3 linked regions of the Homo sapiens genome follow. The protein of the gene in region 3 purifies or fractionates together with the protein of the main gene of each other region. This does not show direct contact. Each region holds a gene or a part of one and is shown on either strand. Other genes may lie near its edges. The genes, in order: AGK, FBN2 and PRDM1.

What was found.
Region 1: the proteins of PRDM1 (region 3) and AGK purify together in Homo sapiens (affinity purification with mass spectrometry; one large-scale study listed by BioGRID and IntAct). This does not show direct contact.
Region 2: the proteins of PRDM1 (region 3) and FBN2 purify together in Homo sapiens (affinity purification with mass spectrometry; one large-scale study listed by BioGRID and IntAct). This does not show direct contact.

The regions. Positions count from the first base shown.
Region 1 is NC_000007.14:141,613,910-141,617,564, forward strand, and holds part of AGK (acylglycerol kinase, mitochondrial isoform 1 precursor), read left to right. Parts: intron 1-236; coding exon 237-269; intron 270-1,561; coding exon 1,562-1,656; intron 1,657-3,655. UniProt on the Homo sapiens protein: Lipid kinase that can phosphorylate both monoacylglycerol and diacylglycerol to form lysophosphatidic acid (LPA) and phosphatidic acid (PA), respectively. Does not phosphorylate sphingosine. Phosphorylates ceramide.
Region 2 is NC_000005.10:128,307,690-128,311,344, forward strand, and holds part of FBN2 (fibrillin-2 precursor), read right to left. Parts: coding exon 3,611-3,655; intron 2,420-3,610; coding exon 2,294-2,419; intron 1,711-2,293; coding exon 1,558-1,710; intron 1-1,557.
Region 3 is NC_000006.12:106,103,317-106,106,971, forward strand, and holds part of PRDM1 (PR domain zinc finger protein 1), read left to right. Parts: intron 1-1,508; coding exon 1,509-2,617; intron 2,618-3,054; coding exon 3,055-3,183; intron 3,184-3,594; coding exon 3,595-3,655. UniProt on the Homo sapiens protein: Transcription factor that mediates a transcriptional program in various innate and adaptive immune tissue-resident lymphocyte T cell types such as tissue-resident memory T (Trm), natural killer (trNK) and natural killer T (NKT) cells and negatively regulates gene expression of proteins that promote the egress of tissue-resident T-cell populations from non-lymphoid organs.

The sequences.
Region 1 (3,655 bases), on a different chromosome or scaffold from region 3:
ATAATTATTTTATCTTAGCCTTTATTGTATTATTGATCATAGGTCAAAAATAAAATCTAATTTAGCTCTGATTCTATTGGAGAATACTATATGTTTTAAGATCCAGTGCATCTTTTAACAGAGCTTCTAAGAAGAAAACAGGAGTAAGTTTATGGTCTATGAAAATTGAATCCAATTCTTTTATTGTAAAGGAAATACATATTATTTATAACAATGTTTTATTATTACATTTGTAGGTTGTTACTGGTGTTCTTCGACGAACAGATGAGGTGAGCATTAAAGAGTAATTGCATTTTAACTTTTATTTTTCTGTTCTTTTTTATTGCTTTTCTTTCTTTTACTTTTTTTTTCCATTGTATATTTTAAAACGGGTACAAATTGTGCTTTCTTGAATTTTAGAAAAGAAAATACTGCTACCCATGTCATAGAACACGTATATTAACACATGGGGACTTTTCTGGTTTGGTAATTGATGGTATCCAATAACTTTGACAATGGTTATTTAAAATTTTGTTATGGAATCTTTTTTTCAAAGAACTTTTTCATAAAAGAAATTGTGGCATATTCATATAGTGGGAATCATCTAACAGTTAAAATGAATGAACTAAATGTATAAATATCTACATGGCTAAATCTCAAAAGTTTTGAATAAAAAAAAAAGCAGGTTGCCCAGGTATGTTATGCATTTCTACAGTGTTTTAAAATTCAGAAAACAATACTATGTATGGTTAATGGATGCTTAAATATGTAGCAAAAGAATAATAATGTGGATGAAAAGGAATCACACCAACCTCAGGATAATGGTCTCCTCTGGGAAGGGAGAGAGGAGAATAGTTTTAGAAGGGACTTTCATTGTATCTCTATCGTTTTATTTCTTGAAACATATGAAGCAAAAAGGTAAATGTTAACATTTGTTAAATATAGGTTGTGGGCACATGGGTGTTTTTGTAACATTATTTTATGCACTTTTCTACAATAGCTAGAAGATCCTTCTCAGTCCCTTTGGTAATAGTACATTGTGCTCAGAATTGTTTTGAACCTTACAGTATCTATTGTATGTGTGGCATTTAATTAACTGCTATGCCAGTACCATCTATTATTTGAACTTGTTTATTCTCTTTGCCTTATTTGTACTTAAGATAGTTTATAAAGCACCTTCACCTGTCATTGGTCACTGTATAAATGGTAGACATTTTTAGTTGAATTTTATCTGCAACTTTATCAAATAGTGTGACAATGTTATACAGTCTCTGTTGCACTAGTGCATTGATATATTATCTTCAAAACCCTCATTATCTTAACCAAATTTCTTTCAAACAGTTGTCATTAATGAGTACTAAAATATTTCTTCCAAATTCTGAGTCATTTTGTTTTCATTGACTGCCTTGTTTTAGAAATTACCCACCTAGCTTTATTTGATTACTGGTCTAAGGATGTGGAAAGGAGATGGGGAGGCAGATACAGGGTCAGTTATTTGTCATAGTGGACACACCTGTGCTTCTCCATTAAGCCTGATTTTCTGATCATAACAATAAAACTTTCCTCTTCTTTCCCCCCCCAGGCTACCTTCAGTAAGATTCCCATTGGATTTATCCCACTGGGAGAGACCAGTAGTTTGAGTCATACCCTCTTTGCCGAAAGTGGAAACAAAGTCCAGTAGGTTGTCAATGTGGGGAATTAGCATTTGTGGGTGAGCGAGACTGGGAATGAAAAATTTATGTGTATGCTATAACTTTCTTGAGTTTTGATAGCCTGAAACTTCAAATAATTAAGAGGAGGACCTAGATCAGAGTTCAGCCTTTCAGTTCATTGGGAAGTCTCCCAACTTGGTTGTGGGACTCTTATAATAAGTCTCCAGGTCAGGTAGGGAGGTGAATACTTGATGTCCTTTTGTCAGTTATGAAGATAATATCCCTGACCTAAACCGTTTTTGTGCTTGTACATTGTAAGATTCTTTAGTGAAGACATATTTGTGCTGCTCATTTGTTTGCTTTAAGTATATGCAATGACAAATAACAAGTCCCTTGTGAAGACTGAACTAGTAGCCTGGCTTCATTATCTTGATATTAAAAATAGCTAAAACAAGTAAATATAGCCACATCCTTTTGGGAATACTTAAAGTGGTAGACAGTGTAGACAAAGTAGACTGGGAAAGCAGTGTAGCTCTGACATCTAAATTAAATTGCTGTGAGTCTCACAGTGTTTTTGGGAGTCAAGCAAATTGTTGTTATTATTGTTCTTTTTTGCTTGAAGGCATTATGTAAACAAAGCTCTGCTCTTTCAAGAAGATAGGAATCTTGAATTTGAGCTTTGACAGTGATTAATAACATCATTTTGAGCAAATAGTTGTCAAGAAGACCCAAATAAATGGAGAGATAGCTGAGAGATCAGTTGCCTGATGGTTAACGTAAGCTTTGTGACACATTGGAGGAAGTCAATAAATAAATATTTGTTGCATGATTTAATGAAAATTTTCTCATGATTTTTCTGGTTATAATCTTCTAGAATAAATAATAATAATACCCAAGTGATTTTCTGTTTTGGTTAAGGATTTTTTTTTCTGCTTTGGAATTCTTTGATTAGGCTGGCTTTTGTGAATTTATTTTTGCTATTGTAATGTTAGGAGTCAACTGTATCTCTTTTAACAATTCTATATTTTAATAAGCATCTTAGTCCAGTTTTCAAAACACTAGGCATACACACATATATATATGTCAGATCTTCATTCAAACTTCTTTTATATTTCAAACCTTAATATAATGGGGATTATTCAGCTATTCATTAGCCATCCTGAGGGCCTAACTACAGGAGAGGCCATTTCAGTTGGCCATCCTTTTTTTTTCTTTTTCTTTCTTTTTTTTTTTTTTGAGACAGAGTCTCGCTCTGTAGCCCAGGCTGGAGTGCAGTGGCGCGAACTCGGCTCACTGCAAGCTCCGTCTCCCAGGTTCACGCCATTCTCTTGCCTCAGCCTCCGAGTAGCTGGGACTACAGGCGCCCGCCACCACGCCCGGCTAATTTTTTGTATTTTTAGTACAGATGGGGTTTCACTGTGTTAGCCAGGATGGTCTCGATCTCCTGACCTCGTGATCCGCCCGCCTCGGCCTCCCAAAGTCAGTTGGCCATACTTTTTATTCCCGGTTTAGAATTTCTGAGGGGCAGTAGATAATGACAGTTAATTGCTCACATTTTTGCTTTTCCAAGATGAATCCTGTCTGATTCAGGTGTTGGTTACATTAGAGAGCTTGTCTTCTCCTTGTGTCAGTGTAGATTTTTTGAATTGCTTTAGCCAGTATTCCAAATAGCATATGTCATTGATCCAAGGGTAGACCATTTTCCTTGGAGACCCCTTGCCTGTCCAAAAGCTAATTTACACAGAGTGTGGCAACCCCCAGGGTCTGAGAGAGTCTTCAGTTTGGGGGAACTGATTTTCTCTTGTAGTTAAACTACTACTGTTGCTGCTGCTATTTATAGTTTAAAAATTTATAAAACTTAATTTATAAGCATGCCCCAGGGCTGTTAGGTAATCCAGGAAGTCTGTCCTGAGTTCAGAGTTCTGTAGGCCTCATAAAATGGCAGAAGCCTAAGGCTATTTAAAAAGAACAAGGCTTTGCTTTTTGCACTGCTGTCAAGATTTGTTGTACCATAGTTACCACAG
Region 2 (3,655 bases), on a different chromosome or scaffold from region 3:
GTCTATTGGAATGTGAAATTTGAGTCATCAAAAACAATGCATTATGAAATAAAATAGGGACTATAAGAAGTATTCTTACACATAATTAACCAAATCAATGGAAATTTAAAAGAATTCTAATTTGCAAGATGAAAAATGCTTCTGACGCTCACTGCTATACAAGTGAGTAAAACTCCTGAAAACAGTATTATATAAAACTTAAACTGCATACTATATTCCAAGTGCTATCAGGTCAGGGATATTGTATATTTCATCCATCAATATATACCGAGTATTGAGAACAGATAGAAAGACCACAGATGCTCAACTTAATGGTTTCTAATTGTCTGGAAATCTTCAAATTATAATTTATATGTATAATCTCCCTAATTGTCATTGCACCCATATGAATTAGTCACTGTAATTATTTATTATTCCTATTTTATACATGAGAAATTAGTTTCAGAAAGGATACATACTCTGCAGGAGGTTCCACAATAAGTATCTTAAGAGTTTTGATTTAAATACAGACACGTCTCTCAACTCCAAGCCTTTCGCTTCTTCTCACAAAGAAAGTGCCATTTTAATTCCCCAAATCAATGATCTTAAATTTGTAACTATGGAGTTTTAAAGTTGAGAATTGTAGGAATGTTTCTATTTAATTTTATGGAACATAATAATGGCAAGATAAGGCTAAGAAAATCCATTTGACCAGTGAATTGGAGCCACTGAAAAAGGCCTATGTGTTGCTTTTCATCATTTCTCTCCTTAATTTCATCAATACATTAAATGGAACATTTAAATACATATACCCTAAGTAATATTTGGTAACAAATGCATAATCACTGTTTCTTATTTGGCCTACTGGTTCAACTCTTAGTATCTATAGTTATTAAAAGTTGCCATTCTCCAGGTCATAAAAGAGAGCCTGATGGACAGCAATTTTAAGACAAGCATTTTTGCTCTTATCTCTATTATCTTTCATTTTTTCTTTCAAAAGAAACTGTCTTGTGAAAAAAACATGACCAAGTGAAGACAAGCTCTATTTTTTGCCTAAAAATTTCACTGATGTCTGAGGAAGAAGATGTAAAAGGCACATTATGACAATGGGTTGCTTTTATGTAAAATTCGCTCATAAAAAACACTTTTTGCATATTTTCCACGGCTGAACTAAAAAAAAATCCTTATTGAATTTAGTTTTTCTCCAAATATTATACTTTCCATGTCTAGCACAGTGACATACAGTAGTTACTCAAGAAATATTTGTTTGATGAATAAATCAATAATTGACAAGCACAGTTTAAGATAATGAGTTTAAATGGACTAATGCTATCAACTCTAACTCTTCAGCAATGGATCTTATTTTCAGGATTCACAAGCCTATCCAACATAATGTCTCAGAAGTTAGTGTTTGAATCCCAAAGAGGATCACTTGGGAAACAGAACCATATGATGCTCTTGGGAATTTTTGGAACTGAGCATCTCTAGTTTTAGCATGCAGTGACTTTGACTATACTGTTAGATATATGCGTGTATCACTGATGTGGCAGTCAGCAGATGCACGAGCCGTGTGCTTACCTGTTCCTGGAGTTGGGCATGGTTCACAAGGTTTGTTCCAGGCTTTGCCCACATTATATGTGCAGCAGCACATCCTTTTTGTCACATTGAAAGGCAACTCATTCTCACAAGTGGTTCCATTATAGCTTCGGTAGCAAAAGCTTTTTCTCATGTCTATATAAAGAAAAACAAAGAAACTAGCCATTTGTATCCACGAGTAGTTTATAATGAAGCCCACACAGCTGTAGACATCAAGCTTTCCTGATGAACACAACTCGGAAACCCTTTTTAGTCATTTGAAGCTATCTTAAAATAACTCCTTAAACATAAATCATTTTTAGATTAACATCTCTCCTTTATCCTTAAAGGTTTTCACTTATAATTTTCTTGGGAGACAATGTTAATACATATTTGTTTTTCTCTCAAAATCATTTATTTAATTAAAAAAATAAAGCATTAAAATTTAAATGTTCTTTTATTTGTAAATTAATGTTCACACTATATGAATGGAGATGAAAAATTTAAGAATATATAACATTTGAGGAAATTTTCTACATTAGACTCATGCTTTTAAAAATTTAAATGTATACCCAAAGGTCAAAAACTTGATACTAAGCCAGCAGCTTGCAAGACTCTGAAATATCTCAATTCACGAAGACTGAACTTCCAAACTTCCAAACAATAATTCTGAGACGTAAGTGCTTTATGTGTGAAGTCAACAACTGTGCTCTAATTAATCTCAGAGTTCTTTACCTACCCATGCAGTTGTGGCCTCCATTGACCTGCATGTACTCAGGTGGGCAAATGCAGGTGTAATTTCCCAGGGTGTTATAGCAGGTCCCAGGCCCACACACACCAGGATGTGCAAAACACTCATCAATATCTAGAGTAGGCAAGAATATCTATTAATTAATAAATCTATTTTTTCAATGAATTTATATTACTTAGATGACTGAACAAAGCATAGGTGATTCTCTAAATCCCCATTTATGCAAAACTTAGAAATAAAGAAAATATCCCAAATATGCATTTATATAACACAGATACATCTTTCTTCAAAAGAAAAAAATCCCCATATTAAAAAATATAAAGCATCAAAAGAAATTATTCTAAAGTGGCAAAAAATAATTTCCTTGGCACATATATATATATATATATATATATATATATATATATATTTTTTTTTTTTTTTTTTTATTGCAATTCGCATTCTTCAATTGGAATTTCTTTAAAGCCTGCTTTTGTCCTATGTCACTTAGGCTAAGTTTTAATGCCAACTTTAAAGTGAATGCAGGTTGGGAAAGCCTTTGTCTTTGTAGCTTCTTTCAAATTAGTAACTATTCAGAGATTCTTAAAGCAGTGCAGCTGCTGGTTGTTCTCCTCATTACATCCTATTTCTTCCAGATACATTTATCAAACATGTTCCAAAAGAAAAGTTATAATGGAAATAATTACGCTACATGTTTAATGTTCAGTTAGAAGCATTCACTCATTTCACAATTAAAATATTGAGATTCTACTGTAAGCTAGAACTTATGGCTGTAATGATGAGTAAGATGTGGACCTTGTCTCCAGAAGCCCCCAGTTTAGTGGTGAGACAGGCCCCTAAAAGAATTGAAATACCATGTGATCAAGTGGGGGGATGGAAGCAAGAATGGCAGCTGCATAACCTTTGAACTTCTTCATACCATATAGTCCAACATTTAAAAATTACTGATCAATATTAAGTTAATGGTCACATTTTAGCTTACCAATTTTTCCTATGTAAAATGTAATTCTTATCAATATTTTCACTAATAACTTACTTAATATTTTAGGTTTTCACACTACCCCATTTTCCCAATTTATATTTAATCAACCCTCCTGGAAAAATACAGTGAATTATGGCAACGAGCCATAAATTAATTTGTCTATCATCATACAACTTAGCTACATTGATATGAAAAAAAAAAAAGCTATGAACCAATCTTAATTGAGCCTTTTGTAGAATGTGAGGATGGGCCTTTCCCTCAGGCCTCAGCAGCCATTTTGTTTTAAACAGCACTGAGCATTTTAGGCATCAAATTCATCTCACCTTCACAGATGCGGGTATCCTCGCTGAGGTAGTAGCCTTGTGGGC
Region 3 (3,655 bases):
CACAGAGTTCATTTCTAGACCTATCAGATAGCAAGTGTGGAGTTCTTTCTCAACTAAATTCAAGCAGAGACATTTTTTAGACGATGAAGGATATTTGCACAAAGGCTTCAGCATGATCCCCCAAACCTGCTGCCTCTGAAGGCATCTCCACACATTGACAGCCAATGCCTTCAGTGCGTTCCTAGGGCAGGTGTCCTGGCTTGAGTGACTGTCCTCCAATAATCAGAGCTCAAACTAAACATCGTATGTTTTACTTTTGGTTTCCAGGCAAGGCTGAGCAGGGAATTTTCAGTTTTCCCTGCCCAGATGGGTGTTTTTTCCTGAAGGCATCATTTATTGTGTAGCGAGGAGACAGGGCTGGCTGTGGCAGGGATAGTCTAGAACTGTCCTCATTGCTGCTGTTCCTAAATAGTATCTTTACCAAGTAATAACGTGCCGTCTTTGGGAATAAGTGCTTTCCTCTTAGCCTGTTCTGTTTTCTTGGGTGCGCTAAGTAATTGAACTGGCTCAGGAAGTACCTATTGTGGTTTGGCAGAGGTGACTGTCACGCCTTGTGACTCCAGGGGCCAGCACTGCTGGGATCCTGGCTAGACCAGACAGAGCCTTGGTGAAGTGCTTAGGCTGTCTGCACATCGCGAGGAAGGTGGTATTCACTTCGCTAAGCTCCTTGGCATAGGCAGTTTGAACAGGGCTTTATCAAATTCGTATTCAACAAGAGTAGAAGCGAAAATTGATGACTGTGTATTACTTGAAATGAGTCTTAATCTTTCACATTTAGTTCTCAGGGTATGCTGATTTCCTTTAGGTAAACCATGAACATCAGAAAGACTTTTATTAACCTATGACAGGGTCCCCACCCCAGTATTTTTCCACTCCATTAAAATGGAAGTTTTTTTTTTTTTTTTCTTTTTTGAGACAGAGTTTTGCTCTTGTTGCCCAGTCTGGAGTGCAATGGCACAATCTCGGCTCACCACAACCTCCACCTCCCAGATTCAAGCGATTCTTCTGCCTCAGCCTCCCAAGTAGCTGGGATTACAGGTGTGCGCCACCACGCCCAGCTAATTTTGTATTTTTAGTAGAGATGGGGTTTCTCCATGTTGGTCAGGCTGGTCTCGAACTTCCGACCTCAGGTGATCCGCCCACCTCGGCCTCCCAAAGTGCTGGGATTACAGGCAAGAGCCACTGCATCCAGCTTAGGCTATCTTACTCCAGCCTAAACAGCAATTTTCTATCATAAGGTCTGTACTAATGAAAACAGAATCACCCAAGGCTGCTGTTTGTTCTGTCTGTGCTGCCATTGTCCGCATTTTGCTGAGGAGGAAACGGAACTGCACTTTTGAGTGAGTGGCCCAGAGCCTTCTAGAATGAGAGTGCGTTGGAAGCCAGATATGTGGCGATTGTGTCGCCAGCTGTTACTCAGGTTTTCTCAAGAAGGAGGAGCAACTTTGGCAGTTTTGCTTCAGTTCTCTCTAGCCCTCTGTGTAATCGCCCCTTTTTCTTTATTTCAGCACAAACACAGAGCAGTCTAAAGCAACCGAGCACTGAGAAAAATGAACTCTGCCCAAAGAATGTCCCAAAGAGAGAGTACAGCGTGAAAGAAATCCTAAAATTGGACTCCAACCCCTCCAAAGGAAAGGACCTCTACCGTTCTAACATTTCACCCCTCACATCAGAAAAGGACCTCGATGACTTTAGAAGACGTGGGAGCCCCGAAATGCCCTTCTACCCTCGGGTCGTTTACCCCATCCGGGCCCCTCTGCCAGAAGACTTTTTGAAAGCTTCCCTGGCCTACGGGATCGAGAGACCCACGTACATCACTCGCTCCCCCATTCCATCCTCCACCACTCCAAGCCCCTCTGCAAGAAGCAGCCCCGACCAAAGCCTCAAGAGCTCCAGCCCTCACAGCAGCCCTGGGAATACGGTGTCCCCTGTGGGCCCCGGCTCTCAAGAGCACCGGGACTCCTACGCTTACTTGAACGCGTCCTACGGCACGGAAGGTTTGGGCTCCTACCCTGGCTACGCACCCCTGCCCCACCTCCCGCCAGCTTTCATCCCCTCGTACAACGCTCACTACCCCAAGTTCCTCTTGCCCCCCTACGGCATGAATTGTAATGGCCTGAGCGCTGTGAGCAGCATGAATGGCATCAACAACTTTGGCCTCTTCCCGAGGCTGTGCCCTGTCTACAGCAATCTCCTCGGTGGGGGCAGCCTGCCCCACCCCATGCTCAACCCCACTTCTCTCCCGAGCTCGCTGCCCTCAGATGGAGCCCGGAGGTTGCTCCAGCCGGAGCATCCCAGGGAGGTGCTTGTCCCGGCGCCCCACAGTGCCTTCTCCTTTACCGGGGCCGCCGCCAGCATGAAGGACAAGGCCTGTAGCCCCACAAGCGGGTCTCCCACGGCGGGAACAGCCGCCACGGCAGAACATGTGGTGCAGCCCAAAGCTACCTCAGCAGCGATGGCAGCCCCCAGCAGCGACGAAGCCATGAATCTCATTAAAAACAAAAGAAACATGACCGGCTACAAGACCCTTCCCTACCCGCTGAAGAAGCAGAACGGCAAGATCAAGTACGAATGCAACGTTTGCGCCAAGACTTTCGGCCAGCTCTCCAATCTGAAGGTAGGCCTTGAGAGAGAGCAGTCCAAGGGGCTGTGAGTGCATGCTTGTGTTTGTATTTAGCTTGCTTTCCATGGGGTATCGATTGCATTTGCAGTAGTATGAGCCCCCGGTTGGGGATAGTGGGTATGGATTCCGCCTGGCTTTTGCCACTTCTAGCTCTTTGACTTTGGACAAGTGACTTCCCTTCTCCTGATTTTCTTCTGAATAATAAAAAAATTAGGGGTTTGGACTAGAAGATTAGGTGAAACTCCCTGCTAGCCTGTGATTTTTGTGCTTTTAAGAAAAACACCATTCTGAAAACATGAAGATTTCTTCTTTTTAAGACTGTCTTGATGCTTTTCTTAAGATATTTGCATCAACACTTGAGTCTTGGAGCAGAAATGTTAGGTCTCAGAGCCAGCTTGAGAGCAGAGCTAACACATGTGGCTTCTTCCCAGGTCCACCTGAGAGTGCACAGTGGAGAACGGCCTTTCAAATGTCAGACTTGCAACAAGGGCTTTACTCAGCTCGCCCACCTGCAGAAACACTACCTGGTACACACGGGAGAAAAGCCACATGAATGCCAGGTGCGCAGTATTTTCTGGGTAGACCTTCTGACCTTTGTAGAAAATGTCTGTGAGTCACCCTCCCATGTCCTATATAGCCCGTAGTTAAAGCCAACACCAGATTCTGCGTTGTCCCATCCTGGACTGATGGCACTATGGTCCTTCCCAGTACTTTGTATCTGCTGATGACTTGAGATGGCACAGCCAGCTTCCAGTGGGTGGGAAAATGGTAGGGGAAATAAACAGCCCCTCGTGTGCTGTGTGCCCACATCCCCCCGTTTGCTTAATACCACACTGGAGGTGCCACAAGGAGGCTTCTCACCTCCTAGGTTGCTGGGCGTTGGCCGGTAAGCCTGCCCCTCCCGTTGGCAACTCTTAATCTTCTGGCCTTCCTGTCTCCCTTCCCTGCTGTCTCTCTCCCCTACACTGTAGGTCTGCCACAAGAGATTTAGCAGCACCAGCAATCTCAAGACCCACCTGCGACTCCATTCTG